Linked DNA regions of Homo sapiens: regions 1 and 3 are each linked to region 2. Evidence: fine-mapped expression QTL. A gene starts in region 2. Each other region holds a variant in brackets. All regions are shown on one strand. Distances are between the middles of the regions. Region 1 overlaps PELP1 (proline, glutamate and leucine rich protein 1). Region 2 holds the start of ZMYND15 (zinc finger MYND-type containing 15). Region 3 overlaps PELP1 (proline, glutamate and leucine rich protein 1).

The links. PIP is the estimated chance that this variant, and not a neighbour inherited with it, causes the effect. A credible set is the group of variants that fine-mapping cannot tell apart.
Region 1: its variant is the best candidate, but not a certain one, in a credible set for the expression of ZMYND15 in whole blood (INTERVAL, PIP 0.64).
Region 3: its variant is the best candidate, but not a certain one, in a credible set for the expression of ZMYND15 in whole blood (INTERVAL, PIP 0.78).

Annotation. Positions count from the first base shown.
Region 1 is chr17:4,693,586-4,698,585 of GRCh38, reverse strand. The region is part of intron 1 of PELP1 (proline, glutamate and leucine rich protein 1); the gene reads left to right. Among named protein-coding and RNA genes, the nearest start is that of PELP1, 8.1 kb to the left of the region's middle. RefSeq lists enhancers at 64-233, 1,142-1,311, 1,941-2,010, 3,204-3,373. The variant TTC/C (reference allele first, on the strand shown) is at 2,552.
Region 2 is chr17:4,736,260-4,742,735 of GRCh38, reverse strand. It overlaps ZMYND15 (zinc finger MYND-type containing 15), which reads right to left and starts at 2,903. Exons shown (of 14, transcript NM_001136046.3): 1 at 2,686-2,903; 2 at 1,596-2,217; 3 at 920-1,154; 4 at 666-821; 5 at 245-405. The coding sequence starts at 2,187. CXCL16 (C-X-C motif chemokine ligand 16) reads left to right here and starts at 2,808. Exons shown (of 6, transcript NM_001386809.1): 1 at 2,808-3,475; 2 at 3,816-3,954; 3 at 4,246-4,328. The coding sequence starts at 3,397. RefSeq lists a silencer at 2,717-2,936 and enhancers at 2,485-3,389, 3,390-4,295.
Region 3 is chr17:4,675,650-4,680,649 of GRCh38, reverse strand. PELP1 (proline, glutamate and leucine rich protein 1) reads left to right here. Exons shown (of 17, transcript NM_014389.3): 6 at 3,838-3,897; 7 at 4,143-4,293; 8 at 4,488-4,614; 9 at 4,766-4,853. Among named protein-coding and RNA genes, the nearest start is that of PELP1, 26 kb to the left of the region's middle. The variant T/G (reference allele first, on the strand shown) is at 3,113.

The DNA.
Region 1 (5,000 bases), 43 kb after region 2:
ACTGGAACCTCCGCCCCCTGGGTTTAAGCGATTCTCCTGCCTCAGCCTCCCAAGTAGCTGGGATTACAAGCGCCTGCTACCATGCCTGGCTAATTTTTTTTCTTTTTTTTTTTTTAGTAGCGATGGGGTTTCGCCATGTTGGCCAGGCTGGTCTCGAACTCCTGACCTCAGATCATCCACCCGCGTTGTCCTCCCGAAGTGCTGGCGTGAGCCACCGCGCCCAGCTTGCTTTTAGTTATAATGTCTCTTTAGTATTCTTTAATCTGAAATAGTTCTTCAGCCTTTGTCTTATGATCTTGATATTTTTAAAGAGTACAGAATAGTTATTTCGTAGGATGCCCCTCAGGTTAGGATCTAATCATGAGGAAACAGCAGACAAATTAAACTGGAGATTTGTGCGTTTTCAGCAAGAATACTGCAGAAGTCGTCCAGGTGCAGTGGCTCATGCCTGTTATCCCAGCATGAGATTCAGAGGCTTAGTGGGAGGCCGAAGTGGGAGGATCACTGAGTGCAGGAGTTCAAGACTAGCTTGGGCAACATGGCAAGACCCTATCTCTACAAAAAAAAAAAAAAAAAACCTTGCAGAAATGATGTGTCATTCTTGGTGCATCACATCAGGAGCACGTATTCTAGGTTAAGCAGGTCTCTGCCAGATTTCTTCACTGTTATAAAGGTATGATTTTTTTTTTTTCCATTTGTAGTTAAGTGTCTTGGGGGGAGATAATGTGAATGTCTTAGGTCTTGTCAACCTTTCACCCACTCATTTTAACATCTATTAAAGGTTCTTCCCTGAATGAATTATTACTATGATGGTTGTTCCGTTGAACTCATTACATTCAGGCTTTTAGCCTAAATGCTGCCGAAACAACCCTTTGCTGGGTGAAATGGTAACTCTTGAAGATCACTGGTGTCCATCAAGACATTAAGTTCAAAGGTCAATTTGGGTCATCATATTTGACTTATCGCTACCATTTGATACAGTTAATTATACTTTCCTATTTAAAAAACTGTCTTCACTTGACTTCTGGGATATCTCTCCCCTGTCTTTTTGTTTTTGTTTGTTTGTTTCATTGAGACAGGGTCTCGCTGTGTTGCCCAGGCTGGAGTGCAGTGGCGCGATCATAGCTTACTGCATCCTTGATCTTCCAGGCTGAGGCAGTCCGCCCTGCTCAGCCTTCTGGGTAGCTGGGACCACAGGTGTGTGCCCCCACACCCAGCTAATCTGTTTGATTTTTAGTAGAAACAAGGTCTCGCTATGTTGCTGAGGCTGGTCTTGAACTCTTGAGCTCAAGCAGTCTTCCCACTTTAGCCTCCTAAAGTACTGGGATTATAGGCGTTAGTCACCCTCCCAGCCCCTCTCCTCTCCTCTCGATTCTCCTGTTATCACACTGGTTACTCCTTTCCAGTAAAGACTGATCCCTCCTCACCTCTGTGACCTCTGAAGGTTTGAGTGCCTACAACCCAGGCCTTGCACTGTTTCTCTTCTCTTTACTCTTATTCCCTTGGTGAACTGATCCAGTCTCAAGGCCCACACCTCTTGAGTTTACATCTCCAGCCAGAAGTTCTCTTCACACTTGTCTAGCCGGTGCCTATTTGGCATCTCCGTTTTCATGTTAAATACACATCACAGATTGAACAGATCTGAAACTGAGCTCCCTATTGTCACCCCAAAACCTGCTCCTCCTGCATTAGTTCCCTTCTCGGTGAATGGCAGCTTCATCTTTCTAGTTGTTCAGCAAAAAACCTTGGCATTATCTTGGACCCTTCTTTTTATTTTCCACCCATATCCAGTTTGACGGCACATCCCGTTGGCTCTACCTTCACAGTACTTCCTGATTTTGACTGCTTTGTATCGCCACAGTTACCACATTCTTCAAGCTGCATCATCATTTGTCTGGAATATTACAGTAACCTTCTACCTCATCTGTTTGCTTCTGCCTTCTCAACAAGACAACACAAATGCTGTTGATTAAAAACAAAGCAAAACAAAAAGCAAACCAGAAGTCAGATATTGTCACTCCTGTGCGCAATTTCTCTCTCCCCCTCGTGGCTTTTATCTTACTCAGGGTGAAAGTCGGTAATCACCTATATGTCTCTGCACAGTCTGGTCCCACTCCCTTAACCTTCATCATTGGTTACTCCTCTCCACCTTGCTCACTTTTCTCCATCAACAATTTGTCTCCTTGTTGTTCTTTGGAAATAACGAAGTATGCTCTCATCTCATAGTCTTCGCTCTTTTTATTTTTCTTTTTTGAGACAGGATGTTGCTTTGCTGTTCAGGCTGGAGTGTAGTGGTGGCGATCATGGCTCACTGCAGTCTTGACCTCCCGGGGTCAAGCAGCCCTCCCACCTTAGCCTCCCAAGTAGCTGTGACCACAGGTGCCCTCCACCATGTTCGGCTAATTTTTAAAAATTCTTTGTGGAGAATGGGGGTCTCCCTCGGTTGCACAGGCTGATCTTGACCTCCTGGGCTCAAGCCATCCTCCTGCCTTGGCCTCCCAGTGTTGGGATTACAGTCATGAGCCCCTTGCCCAGCCTGTTTTTTTTTTTT[TTC/C]TTTTCCTGGAACACTCTTTTTTTTATGGTTATCAGTATGCCTTTTTATAAAAACAGCTTTACTGCGGGGGTTCATGGTGGTTCACTCCTGTAATCCCAGCACTTTCGGAGGCCAAGGTGGGCGGATCACCTGAGGTCAGGAGTTGGAGACCAGCCTGACCAATATGGTGAAACCACACCACCACGTCTGGCTAATTTTTGTATTTTTAGTAGATTTTTAGATGTTTAGTTTCGCCACGTTGGCAAGGCTGTTCTCAAACTCCTAACCTCAAATGATCTGCCCACCTTGGCCTCCCCAAGTGCTGGGATTACAGGCGTGAATCACTGCCCCCTGCCAGATTTTTTTTTTTTTTTTTTTTTTTTTTAAGAGAGAGGGTCTCACTCTTTTGCCCAGGCTGGAGTATAGTAGTGTGTTCATAGCTCACTGCAGCCTTGAACGCCTGGATTCAAGCGATCCTTCTGCCTCAGCCTCCCGAGTAGCTGGGACTGCAGGTGCATGCCATTGCACCTGGCTAATTTTTAAAAATTTTTGTAGAGATGGTGTCTCTCTGTGTTGCCCAGGCTGGTATGGAACTCCTGGCCTCAAGTGATTCGCCTGCCTTGGTTTCCCAGAATTTTGGGATTATAGGCCACCGTGCCTGGCCAAAACAGCTTTATTGAGAAATAATTCACAAACCATACAATTTAGCCATTTTATTTATTTATTTTTTCCAGACGGAGTCTCACTCTGTTGCCGAGGCTGGAGTGCAGTGGCGTGATCTCGGCTCACTGCGACCTCTGCCTCCCGGGTTCAAGCGATTCTCCTGCCTCAGCCTCCCTAGTAGTTGGGATTACGGGCGCCCGCCACCATGTCCGGCTAATTTTTGTATTTTTCAGTAGAGACGGGTTTTCATCATGTTGGCCAGGCTGGTCTCAAACTCCTGACCTCGTGATCCACCCGCTTCGGCTGCCCAAAGTGCTGGAATTACAGGCATGAGCCACGGTGCCTGGCCTTTTATTTTTTTCGAAATGGAGTCTCACATTGTCACCCAGGCTGGAGTACAGTGGTGCAATCTTGGCAAACTGCAATTTCTGCATCCTGGGTTCAAGCGATTCTCCCGGGTTCAAGCGATTCTCCCGGGTTCAAGCGATTCTCTCAGGTTCAAGCGATTCTCCTTCCTTAGCCTCCCGAGTAGCTGGGATTACAGGCGCCCACCACCACGCCTGGCTAATTTTTGTATTTTTAGTAGAGCCGGGGTTTCACCATGTTGGCCAGGCTGGTCTTGAACTCCTGACCTCATGATCCACCTGCCTCGGCCCCCCAAAGTGCTGGCATTACAGGCGTAAGCCACCGCGCCCGGCCCATTTTATTTTTATTTTATTTTATTTTTTTTGAGGTGGAGTCTCATTCTGTCACCCAGGCTGGAGTGCAGTGTCACGATCTTGGCTCATTGCGACCTCCGCCTCCCGTTCTCAAGCGGTTCTCCTGCCTCAGCCTTTGGAGTAGCTGGGATTACAGGCGCCTGCCACCACGCCTGGCTGATTTTTTTTTTTTTGTATTTTTGGTAGAGATGGCGTTTCACCATGTTGGCCAGGCTGGTCTCAAACCCCTGACCTCAGGTGGTCTGCCCACCTTGGCCTCCCAAAGTACTGGGATTATAGGCATGAGCCACTGCGCCCGGCCACAGTTCACTCACTTAGAGTATACAATTCCGTGGATTTAGTATATTTGCAGAGTTGTGCGGTCATTGCTGTGCTCAGTTTTGGAACATTTTCATCACTCCATAAAGAAATTCTGTACCCACTTACAGTCATTCCCATTGCCCACCAAGCCCTCCCTGGCTGCCTCCAGCTTTAGGCAAACAGTAATCTACTTTTTTTCTTTAGAGATTTGCCTATTCTGGCCATTTGATAGAAATGAATTGTATAATATGTAGCCTTTGGGTTTGGCTTCTTTCACTTAGCAGTCAGTTTTCAAGGTTCATCCATGTGTCAAGACTTTATTACTCTTTTCTGTTTTGCTGTGTTGGGTCTTGTGTTGCCTAGGCTGGATTCAAACTCTCAGGATTAGTCAAGTGATTCTTATGCCTCAGCCTCCCAAGTAGCTGGGACTACAGGCGGGTGCCATTGTGCCCGGCTAAAACTTCATTCCTATTTATGGCCTTTTATGCAATAGTCCCCTCTTATCTGTGCTTTCCCTTTCCATGGTTTTACTTACCTGTGGTCAACCGTGGTCTGAAAATATTAGGTGGAAAATTCCAGAAATAAGTAATTCATAAGTTTTAAATTACGTGCCATTCTGAGCAGCGTGATGGACTCTCGAGGAGTTCTGCTTCATCCTACCTGGGACGTGAATCGGACATGAATCATCCTTTTGTCCAGTGTATCCATGTTGCACATGCTCCCTGCCTGAGGGTCATCTTGTAACCATCTCGGTGATCAGATCCACTGTGGCGGTATTGCAGTGC
Region 2 (6,476 bases):
GTAAGTGTTTGAATCCCTGTCCCCCAATCCCTGCACGCTCTCAGGGACCCAGACACTCAGGCCTCGGCTTCAGAGACCCTGTCTCCAGCCCCAAACACCCAGCCCCTGCCCTTGTTCCAGGGATCTAGGCTCTAGCCCCAGACACTCAGCCTTCAACTGCAGGACCCTGTTCCCAGACATCTAATTCCCAGTCTCAAAGACCTGGTCCCAGTTTCCCCCAACCATTCTGACCTCCTTATGGTACCTGCGGTGTAGGTAAAAGGCAGGGTTGCCAGTTCTCCTGCCCGCTCCATGAAGGCTGCAAGCCTTGGGCACCAAAATCGGTGACTCACATCATCTGGGCACCGCTGCCAGTCAGCCCGGAGACAAGCCTCTCCACAATACAAGACAGCACTACACTGGGGGCTGGGGACACAGCGGGTGGTGGGCACCTAGTGTTAACCTCTGTAGGTCCTGTCTGCTGTTCAACTGCCCAGCAGCTGCCCATATGTCACTCGGTCTGTTTGTCTTACACCCTCTAACCGCCTGTAACAGTCTGTATTGTTTCCTCTGCATCTTCTCATGTCCCTGCCTCTCCTTCTGTCTGCTAGGCGCCCCCCACCACCCTGCCTTCCTTCTATTTGCCTATTGGGGTCTTCCTCTCCCCCAGCTTTGGGGCTGCTCACCAAGGTGTCAGCTTCGCTTCAAAGCTGTGCCTGTGACACACATGGCAGGTTCGAGCACGAAGGGAAGCAAAGGTGAAGCCTGGCCGGGGACCCCATGTCCGCATTGGGGTTTTGGCTAACTTCACACCTAGCCTTGGGACCAAGCTCTCCAGCTCTCTAAATGCAGTTGGGGGGGAGATGGCATCAGGCTGGAGGAGGTGCTTGGGAATCCAGGGCCCGAGTCCTCCCCAGCCTCAGATACCAGATTTCTATACCGATGCAGCCGGGCATCTCCCACAGTAAGCTGTCGGGGCTTTCGGGGATCCCCAGAGCCCATGGGACAGGCCATGCTGTGACAGAGGAGAGCATAGGCCCAAGGAGCCAGGTCCTTGGTCCCTGAGCCCCAGCTTGCGGTTCCCTGGGCTCCATCCACTAGCAGATCAATGCCCAAGATGGTGCCATGCTCATCCGTCACAAGTAAGAGACAGGAAACGTGCAGGGGGGCAGCCTCTGGGGAAAGAGGGAAAAGTTGAGGTGGTAGGGGGCAGCGAGAGACAAATGTGGTCAGGGTCAGGAGTACCAAACTCAAATACCTACGGGGCTAGGCAAGTAACCTCACTGAGTAAAGGGCTCTGGGTAGAGAGGGCACGCTCCTTCTAAAGGGGACAGCTGCTACAGAGGACCAGAATGCGCTGCCATGCAGAAATGTAGGCCCACTGTCAGAGCTTGAGATTTTTCTTGGGAATGTGTAAATCCAGACTTCTGGATACTTTTTTTCTTGCAATGTTTAAACATTAAATTAAAAAAAAAAACCCCACTGTGGGTCAATAAAAACACCTTTTCAGGCCAGATTGGCCTGAAGGCCAGCACTCAGAACTAGTGGCAGGGGAGGGCTTCCGAAGGGAGGATGGCTGGGCAAGGGGTAGGGCAGGGCCAGCCCTGGGTTCTTACCACTCCTCTGTCCCTTCCTCTTCTGGGGTCTTGTTTCGTTCTCCACCCTGTCCTCTCGGCAGCCATCCTTGCCACCTCCTGCCTCCCGGGCAGCCTCCTCTGACTCTCCTGGAGGGTTTGTTTCCTGGGGGGACTCCCTGCTGGTAGGGGCTAGCTCCCGGTCCTCCTCTGGTTCCACCTTCTCTGTGCTGCCTGCACCCCCGTCCTCTCTCTTCTCTTCTTCTTCATCTTCCTCCTCTTCCTCCTCCCCTTCCTCCCCATCCTCTAGGCTGACAAAGCTGATGTAGGGGCTCAGGTCTCGCAGGTGGAGTGGAGGGTTGTCTCCCAGGAGCCAGGCAGTCCCCAGGCCTGGTCCAGGACCTGGTTCTGCCCCTTGCCCCAGGCTGATGCCCACACTATGGTTGGGCAGGACATGGAGCACCCAAAGGGCAGGGTCCTGGGGTAGCCTTCTGATCTGGGCCTCCAGCTGCCGGCAGCGGCCCTCAAGGCTAGTCCCTACAGCTCCACGCTCTGCCACAAACTTTCGGAACCAGCCGAAGAGAAGGGCAGTGAAATCAAGGAACTCATCCCGGTATCCAGACACAAACTCCATGTCTTCAGCGGCACAGGGCCCCGGCCCAGACTGAGCAAAAGAAGGGATATATGGTGAGGGACAGGAGAGCAATGATGGAGTTTGGGGCTGGGTCACAAATTGAGGGAGAGGGTAGGTTTGAGAGTCACTTAGGGTTGGATCCGTGGATATGCTAGGAGCGGAGAAGAGGATTTTTCAGGGCTGAGGATGGGAGTTTAGGGAGGAAAATGGGGGCTGGACTTGAAAGTGGGTGACCAGGGTTGGAGAAGACTACTCAGGGATGAGATGGTATTTGGGGCTTAAAATTGGAGAGTTCACACCCTCAAAAGCAGAGTTTAAATTAAGGCTAGAGAGGAGAGAGGGCTAATCCTATCGGGAACGGTTTGGTGGGGAGGGAAGCATTTTGGATGCGTCTGTGGGGTATGGGAGTGGGAGCGAGGGGGTTCCCTGGGCTCGGATCTGCGTGGCGGGCAGCCCCGGTAGACCTAGCCCCTCCCGGCCGCCCCACTCCTCCGGTACCTGCAGCCGCCACCACTTTTCGAAGGTAAATACCTCGCGGTGGAGGGTGCGCGGGTGCGGTTGTGACGTCAGGGCTGCCCGAGCCCTCGCCGGCTCAGCGGGCGGCCACGCCCCCCGGGCTCGGTGCGTCCGCGGGTGGCTGCCCCGCAGGTGCGCGCGGCCGGGGCTGGCGGCGACTCTCTCCACCGGGCCGCCCGGGAGGCTCATGCAGCGCGGCTGGGTCCCGCGGCGCCCGGATCGGGGAAGTGAAAGTGCCTCGGAGGAGGAGGGCCGGTCCGGCAGTGCAGCCGCCTCACAGGTCGGCGGACGGGCCAGGCGGGCGGCCTCCTGAACCGAACCGAATCGGCTCCTCGGGCCGTCGTCCTCCCGCCCCTCCTCGCCCGCCGCCGGAGTTTTCTTTCGGTTTCTTCCAAGATTCCTGGCCTTCCCTCGACGGAGCCGGGCCCAGTGCGGGGGCGCAGGGCGCGGGAGCTCCACCTCCTCGGCTTTCCCTGCGTCCAGAGGCTGGCATGGCGCGGGCCGAGTACTGAGCGCACGGTCGGGGCACAGCAGGGCCGGGGGGTGCAGCTGGCTCGCGCCTCCTCTCCGGCCGCCGTCTCCTCCGGTCCCCGGCGAAAGCCATTGAGACACCAGCTGGACGTCACGCGCCGGAGCATGTCTGGGAGTCAGAGCGAGGTGGCTCCATCCCCGCAGAGTCCGCGGAGCCCCGAGATGGGACGGGACTTGCGGCCCGGGTCCCGCGTGCTCCTGCTCCTGCTTCTGCTCCTGCTGGTGTACCTGACTCAGCCAGGTTAGCCGGGGGCGGGGCAGGGGACCCAGATTCCCCTGTCACGGGAAGGGGGTGAGTTGGGGAGGGGACACGAGGCCCACGGAGTTGAGTGGATGAAGGCAGCGGGGACAAGAGGAAAGCCAGCCAGCCGCCTGGGGTTGGGGACAGAGGCCCGGGGACGCCTGGCTCCGGGCGGGATTATGGATGTTGTCGGGGGCGTGATGATGTGTGGGTTGAGCCTGGCGCTCTGACCCTGGGTCCACCGAGAGGCTGTCATGGGGCTGTGGATTGGATGCCAGGGAACAGCGGAGTGGGGACCCTGGGCCTGGGAATGGGTGCCGACCACCTCCGTCCCGCGCAGGCAATGGCAACGAGGGCAGCGTCACTGGAAGTTGTTATTGTGGTAAAAGAATTTCTTCCGACTCCCCGCCATCGGTTCAGTTCATGAATCGTCTCCGGAAACACCTGAGAGCTTACCATCGGTGTCTATACTACACGAGGTAATTTTACCTGCCTCTGCGAGGGCAGCGCCTGGGCGGCCCCTCCTTGCAGGTGCCTCCAGGACCCTCTCTGGTCCAGCCTGAACTCCTTCCCGGCTCACCGAGCCCCATCTCCGGGTTCCGTTTGCTCTCATTCCCCGAAACTTCATGACTCCGTCTCACCTACTGGGGAGTTTCCCAGTCCCAGGAGAAAGGGCTCTTTCTTGGTGGCAACTTCACGCCTCTGGAATGAGGAAGGAGCCGGGGAAGGAAAGAAGGCGCCGCAGCTAAGCCCAGGTCTCTCCTCCGCAGGTTCCAGCTCCTTTCCTGGAGCGTGTGTGGGGGCAACAAGGACCCATGGGTTCAGGAATTGATGAGCTGTCTTGATCTCAAAGGTGAGACTTTTCCACTGCTCTTCAGGCTCTGCCTCCAGGGCTTAGCAGCTTCCACCTGACAGTTTTCTTTACCTGAGCCTTTTCCCCTGGGGCCGCACATTCCTAGAACCTTCTTCTGATCCTGTCCAAAGTACTTAGACTCGAGTCCCTGTTTGCCAAACGGGGTGATCATTCACCATCACCTTCATGAGTTTTGCCAATTCATTCTACCACGTGTGCTATTGTCTACTTATTAATATTTTTCTTGAAATCAAAGTACTATTTTATTTTATTTTTTTGAGATGGAGTCTCACTCTGTCACCCAGGCTGGAGTGCAGTGGCACGATCTTGGCTCACTGCAACCTCTGCCTCCCAGGTTCAAGAGATTCTCCTGCCTCAGCCTCCTGAGTAGCTGGGATTACAGGCGCGCACCACCAAGCCTGGCTAATTTTTGTATTTTTAGTAGAGACAGGGTTTCACCATGTTGGCCAGGCTGGTCTCGAACTCCTGGCCTTGTGATCCACCCGCCTCGGCCTCCAAAAGTGCTAGGATTACAGGCGTGAGCCACCACACCTGGCCTATTTTTCTTTTCCAATATTTTATTATGAAAATTTACACATATACAAAAGTTGAAAGAATGGCACACTGAATATCCAGTGCCTCCACCTAGATTCTACAATTTTATTTATATATGTATATTTTACATATTTACATAAACATATATTTTACACTATCAATTTTACAGCAATTACACGATATTTGCTTTATTAAGTATCCATCTATTCATTCTTCTATCCATCATCCATCACCTTATTTCTTGATGCATTTCTTTTTTTTTTTTTTTTTTTTTTTTAATGGAGTCTTGCTCTGTCGCCCAGGCTGGAGTGCAATGGTGCCCTCAGCTCACTGCAGCCTCCGCCTCCCAGGTTCAAGCAATTCTCCTGCCACAGCCTTCCGAGTAGCTGGGATTGCAGGTGCCCGCCACCATGCCCAGCTAATTTTTGTATTTTTTTAGTAGAGATGGGGTTTCACCGTGTTGGTCAGGCTGGTCTCAAACTCCTGACCTCAGGTGATCCACCTGCCTCAGCCTCCCAAAGTGCTGGGATTACAGGTGTGAACCGCAGTGCCCGGCCTCTTGATGCATTTCAAGGCAGATTGTGGACATCATTGCACTTCATCCCAAGACATTTCAGCATGTATATTAAGTAGAGTTCAATATTTTAATGCTTTTTTTTCTTTTGAGTTCAAATTTACATACAATGAAATGAATTACTTTTAAGTGTGCACAAACTAGTTTTGAAAACTTAAGTAGAGGCCAGGACGGTGGCTCACTCCTGTAATCCTAGCTCTTTGGGAGGTTGAGGCCGGTGGATCACCTGAGGTCAGGAGTTTGAGACCAGCCTGACCAACATGGTAAAACCCCATCTCTACTAAAAATACAAAATTAGCCAGGCATGGTGGCATGTGCCTGTAATTCCAGCTACTCAGGAGGTTGAGGCAGGAGAATCACTTGAACCTGGAGGCGGAGGTTGCAGTGAGCCGAGATCAGGCCATTGCACTCCAGCCTGGGCAACAAAAAAAAAGAAAGAAAACTTAAATAGTAAATTATCCTAAGCAATAATATCTGTGAAGTCACAAGTTTGATGCATTGGTTATATTTTTCTCTTAAAATAAATATACAACCATTAAAATACAAAAGGTTCTTCCATGTCCTAGCTAAAGTTTTGTAGGATCTGTGTCATCCATACTGCCTTTAAGTCTGCCTAGACCTCTATGATTTCCTTTCATCCTCCCAGGAACCCTGGCCCTTGGTACTACAATTATCCTCATTTTACAGCTGGAAGATATCACTTCCGGAGAGGTTAGGGACAAGGGGTGAGGTTACACAGCTACTTGAGGTTACACAGCTACTTTACAGCAGAGCTTGGAATCCAACCCTGGTCTTCTGATTTCCCAGTTCATGACACCCACTTGTCTCGTGGTTCGCTCACTTCCTTGTCCCCTACCTTTTCCGTCTGTCATCTGCCTTCCTCTTCTGGCCTTCAGCGTGATAACCTCCCTGACTCACTCTTCCCTCTGTTGGAGCTCAGAACATGACACTCCAAAACATGGCACCTTGGTAATTACGAAAACAGCAGAAGTAAGTAGCTCACTCTGCTCTGTTTTTCT
Region 3 (5,000 bases), 61 kb after region 2:
CTGTATTTGCCATTAGTATTGTTAGTTAAGGGGGAGTTTGCTATTCAGGTTGTCTTGAAAGTGAGATTATGAGGCTGGGCGTGGTGGCTCATGCCTGTAATCCCAGCACTTTGAGAGGCCAAGGCGGGCAGATTGCATGAGCTCAGGAGTTTGAGACCAGCCTGGGCAACACAGTGAAACCTCGCCTCTACTAAAATACAAAAAATTAGCCAGGCGTGGCGGTGTGTGCCTGTAGTCCCAGTTACTTGGGAGGCCGAGGCAGGAGAATTGCTTGGACCCAGGAGGCGGAGGTTGCCATGAGCCGAGATCGCACCACTGTACTCCAGCCTGGGTGACAGAGTGAGACTCTGTCTCCAAAAAAAGAAAGAAAATGAGATTAATGTGGTTCTGTGACCAAAGCAAGAAAGTAAGTTCTTGGAGGGAAAGGGAACTGGTCTTTAGTGGGTGCCCACTGTGCCATTCACTCTCCTGAGTGTCTAAGATGTGTTGTGTCATTTTATCATTGTAATTATTCTGTGGAATTTGTATCACTGCATTTTACAGAGGAGAAAACCAGCTGAGAGGGACTTAAGTGACGTAACCAAAGGTTATATTATCTGGTAATTGTAAAACCAGGGCAGGTAGCAGCTCTAGTCAATTGTTAGTGGCTGTGTAGCTCGCTGGCCTGGGAAGGACTGTGAGTCAGAGTTCCATCGGCCTGAGCGCTGTGATCAGGGAGTGATGCCTGCAGTGTCGTTAGTAACTGGTTACTCGCAGTATCTGAAAAGTGCCTGAGCAGATGCTAGTTCTGAGTGAGCGAGGGGTTGTGTCCTTGCTGGTTCCTTCTTTTCATGTGAATGCCTCTAATCACAGCTAATAGAATCTTTGGGTAGGCAGGGCAGGACATTTTGTCAAGAAGGTATTTGGAGTGACTCATCGATTTTATTAAAGATTAGCAGAGGTTATTTACTGAGGTTTTACTAAGTTTAGTAAAAACTGGTTATCTTGTCAAATGTTCTGTAAGTTAACCTCTCAAATGACACAGGCCAGCAGTTTGTCCCTGAACAAAGGTTTGGTTTTACTGCAAAAGTGTATTTTGATTCAGCTCTGTTAGGTATTATCTTTATCTACCTGCATCCCCCATGAAAGTGGAGGGGAAATTGAGTGTTACTTAACAGGATAGAAGTGTGAATAGTAAGAGTTAAGGAGACTAGAATGCTAAGTGTTCTTCTGCTGTTGCTTTTTTATTTTCAGTGTGAGTAGTCAGGAGAATTTATCTGTAATTCTCAACCTTTTGTCAGACAGTTGAACTTAAGGCCTGCATTTTGAGTACCCTTTCCAAACTAACAAATGTTCCTGTGTCCTTCCAGGGAGTGTCTTACCTTTATTTCCCTAAGAATCAAGTGCCATCTGCCAGGAGTTTGAGATCAGCCTGGCCAACATGGTGAAACCCTACCTCTACCAAAAATACAAAAAAATTAGCTGGGTGTGGTGGTGTGTGCCTGTGGTTCCAGCTACTTAGAACATTGAGGCAGGAGATCCCCTGAAGCTGGGAGGCAGAGGGTGCAGTGAGCTGAGATCGTGGCACTGCACTCTAGCCTGGGTAACAGAGTGAGACCCTGTCTCAAAAAAAAAAAAGGTCATCTGGAGAACTTCCCTCTGTTGAGGGTGTTGAGGGTTTTGGCTTTGTCGGTTGCCAGCACTTCAGATAAGAATCTGTCATGCAGAGGCTCCAGGGGCAATTTGCACTTGGAAAATCTCGCAGACTAGTACTTAGGAAAACTGATAACTGCCGTTTTGAAGTGTCTGTGTTTTCTGTTACATTCCCCGGATACTCTCAGGGTAATTGTAGACTCCAAGCTCAGGATTACTACTCCCAAGTAATGTGAATCAAGCATTCTGAGTCCATGAGGTCAATTCCTGCAGAGACTTGAACTCACTTCCTCGTCCTTGCCACATTGATGAGCAGTTCCTCGGAATGGGTGGGAAGACTGACCTACTCTTGAGAGAGCCCCAGGACATGCTGTGTGTGTGCGCGTTTTGAGTGAACTGTTCCAAGCGAGTCATTGCTTTGGTTTGCTTTGTGGGTCAGCCAGGGTAACCTGTGGTTAGAGCCGTGTCGCTTCACCGTACACTGCTTTATTGCAGTCACATAAGCAGACTTCTGTTGGCTTCAGTCCAGCTTTTTGAGCCGTTTTTGGAGATAGGGTCTCGCTCTGTGACCCAGGAGTGCAGTGTTAAGATTGTAGCTCACTGTAACCTTGAACTCCTGGGCTCAAGTGATCCTCCCACGTCAGTCTCCCAAGTAGCTAGGACTACAGGTGTGCACCACTAGGATGTCTCGGGGAAAGCGTGAGCCTGCTCTTTCCCCTTCTCTGTATGTTGCCAGTGTTGGCTCCAGATTCTTGTTTTTCCATATGCTTGTCTTGTTATCCTTACTAATTCTTTTTTTTTTCTGAGACAGAGTCTTGCTCTGTCACCCAGGCTAGAGTGCAGTGGCGTGATCTCGGCTCACTGCAACCTCCGCCTCCTGGGTTCAAGCAATTCTCCTGCCTCAGCCTCCCAAGTAGCTGGGATTACAGGTGCCCACCACTGTGCCCAGCTAATTTTTGTACTTTTAGTAGAGATGGGGTTTCACCATGTTGGCCAGGCTGGTCTTGAACTCCTGACCTCGTGATCTGCTCACCTCAGCCTCCCAAAGTGCTGGGATTACAGGTATGAGCCACCGTGCCTGGCCTTTTTTTTTTTCTTTTTGAGACAGGGTCTCACTCTCATCACCCAGGCTAGAGTACACTGACTGGCATGATCTCGGTTCTGGGCTTGGGTGGTCCTCCCACCTCAGCCTCCCAAGTAGCTGGGACTACAGGCATGCGCCACCACACCCGGCTAAGTTTTTGTATTTTTAGTAGAGATAGGGTTTCTCCATGTTGCCCAGACTGGTCTCAAACTCCTTGGCTCAAGTGATCCGCCTGCCTTGACCTCCCAAAGTGCCTGGATTACAGGCGTGAGCTACTGCACCCAGCCTGTGCTTTTTTATTGACATGTTAAGTAATAAGATCTAGAAGCAGGTCTTACAACGACTATAATTGCAAATTAGTGATGCATGTGAATGATATTTCAGGATGTGTTACAA[T/G]TATAATGTGACATGAAAATGATTCTATTAGTGACAGTCACAGGTACTGCTGATACTACTGTGGCTATTTGTCTGCATTTATAAGTGAAGGAAACACTACATTTTACAAATAGGCTAGTGGGAGTAATTTTTTTCCCCATCCATGATCACAGGCCCCCTATGATTGTATATCCAACTAAATTGTGGTTCTCAGGTTAAACACTCCTGCCCTAGCACCTTCACACAGCAGGCAGAGAAAGTGCCGAATGACAGATTGCTACTCCGAGACTTGCTGCCTTACTTCTGCTCTAGCAGCCTTCTTTTTTGACCTTGTCCTGCCCTCATACCTCTGGTTAGTGTCTTAACTTCCAGCTTGGACCCTCGTTTTTGTGTGTGAGCTGGTAGAGAGTTGGAGTGTGGAGACTGTTTTTTAGTACTATGTCCTTTTGGCTTGAGGGAAAAATTTTGCAAAAACTGTCAAGGAGGAAGCCCAGCTGTCTCTGGGACAGGGCCAGGCCCTTTTCGCTCCCAAGCAGGAAGCCGAGGACCAGAGCTGGCGTTGAGGAGTCTTTTACCATGAAAGCATGTCCGTGCCCGGTGTTGATGCCCCATAGAGGGCTTTGCTTCTTGTGTCTACAGGAAAAAGAGACCTGGGCTTAGAGTCTGCTGCTGGGAACGGATGGGATGTACATCTCTGGCTCTCAGAGCTGGCTCACTGGCCTCTTCCTTTTTTCCTCCACATCCAGGGCAAGCTGGCCTCATTTTTTCTGTCTAGGGTGGATGCCTTGAGCCCTCAGCTCCAACAGGTAAAGGGCAGGGAGGGAGAGGGAGAGCCCGGGGATCTGAGCCTGGATTGTCTCTTGCTGCTCCTCCTCTAGCTTTTCTGTCCTGCCTTCATATGCCCATCTGTGTCCTTCGGCCTCATTGTCCCATCTCAGGTTTCCCTCAGAGCTCTCTCTGATCTCCATCTCTTTTGGGTGTCAGTGGGGCTGGGGGTTCTGTGGCTGGGCTGGATTCCCATCTGACCAGGTTTCTGTCCTTTCTCCCGCAGTTGGCCTGTGAGTGTTATTCCCGGCTGCCCTCTTTAGGGGCTGGCTTTTCCCAAGGCCTGAAGCACACCGAGAGCTGGGAGCAGGAGCTACACAGTCTGCTGGCCTCACTGCACACCCTGCTGGGGGCCCTGTACGAGGGAGCAGAGACTGGTAGGGACCAGGGCTGCTAGTTAGTGGAACAATAGTGAGGAAGCGTGGCAGGAAGGAACAGGAGGGGAGCCCAGAGACATGGGGCAGTTGGTTTTTGGGGAAAATGGGTTAGAATACAGGCAGGTCGTCCACCAGAAATGACAGAGGAGGGGATGGAAGAAAGACAGTGTACAGGGTAGTTGTGCTTCTGCCAGCTCCTGTGCAGAATGAAGGCCCTGGGGTGGAGATGCTGCTGTCCTCAGAAGATGGTGATGCCCATGTCCTTCTCCAGCTTCGGCAGAGGTTTTCGGGACTGGCCCGCTGCCTAGGGCTCATGCTCAGGTGTGTGTGGGTATTGGAGGGAGCGGAGGCGTGGAGCAGGAGGGATTGATGAGGGAGTGTCGCCTTCATCAGGAGAAAGGAGATGAAGGTGGGTGTGGGAGTTATGCCAGGGAGCCTGCTCTGAAGGTCTCCCTGCTCTGATTCTCTTTAGCTCTGAGTTTGGAGCTCCCGTGTCCGTCCCTGTGCAGGAAATCCTGGATTTCATCTGCCGGACCCTCAGCGTCAGTAGCAAGAATATTGTAAGTGGGATTTGTCATCTCTTCAGAGCCCTTGCTCAGGATACCAGGCAACCAGGAAAGTACTGGGGACCTGAGTCTCCCCAAACAGTGTCATCCTGGAGTCGTCCCAGAGAGCTTCCTACTTTTGTCCAAATAACATCACTTCCT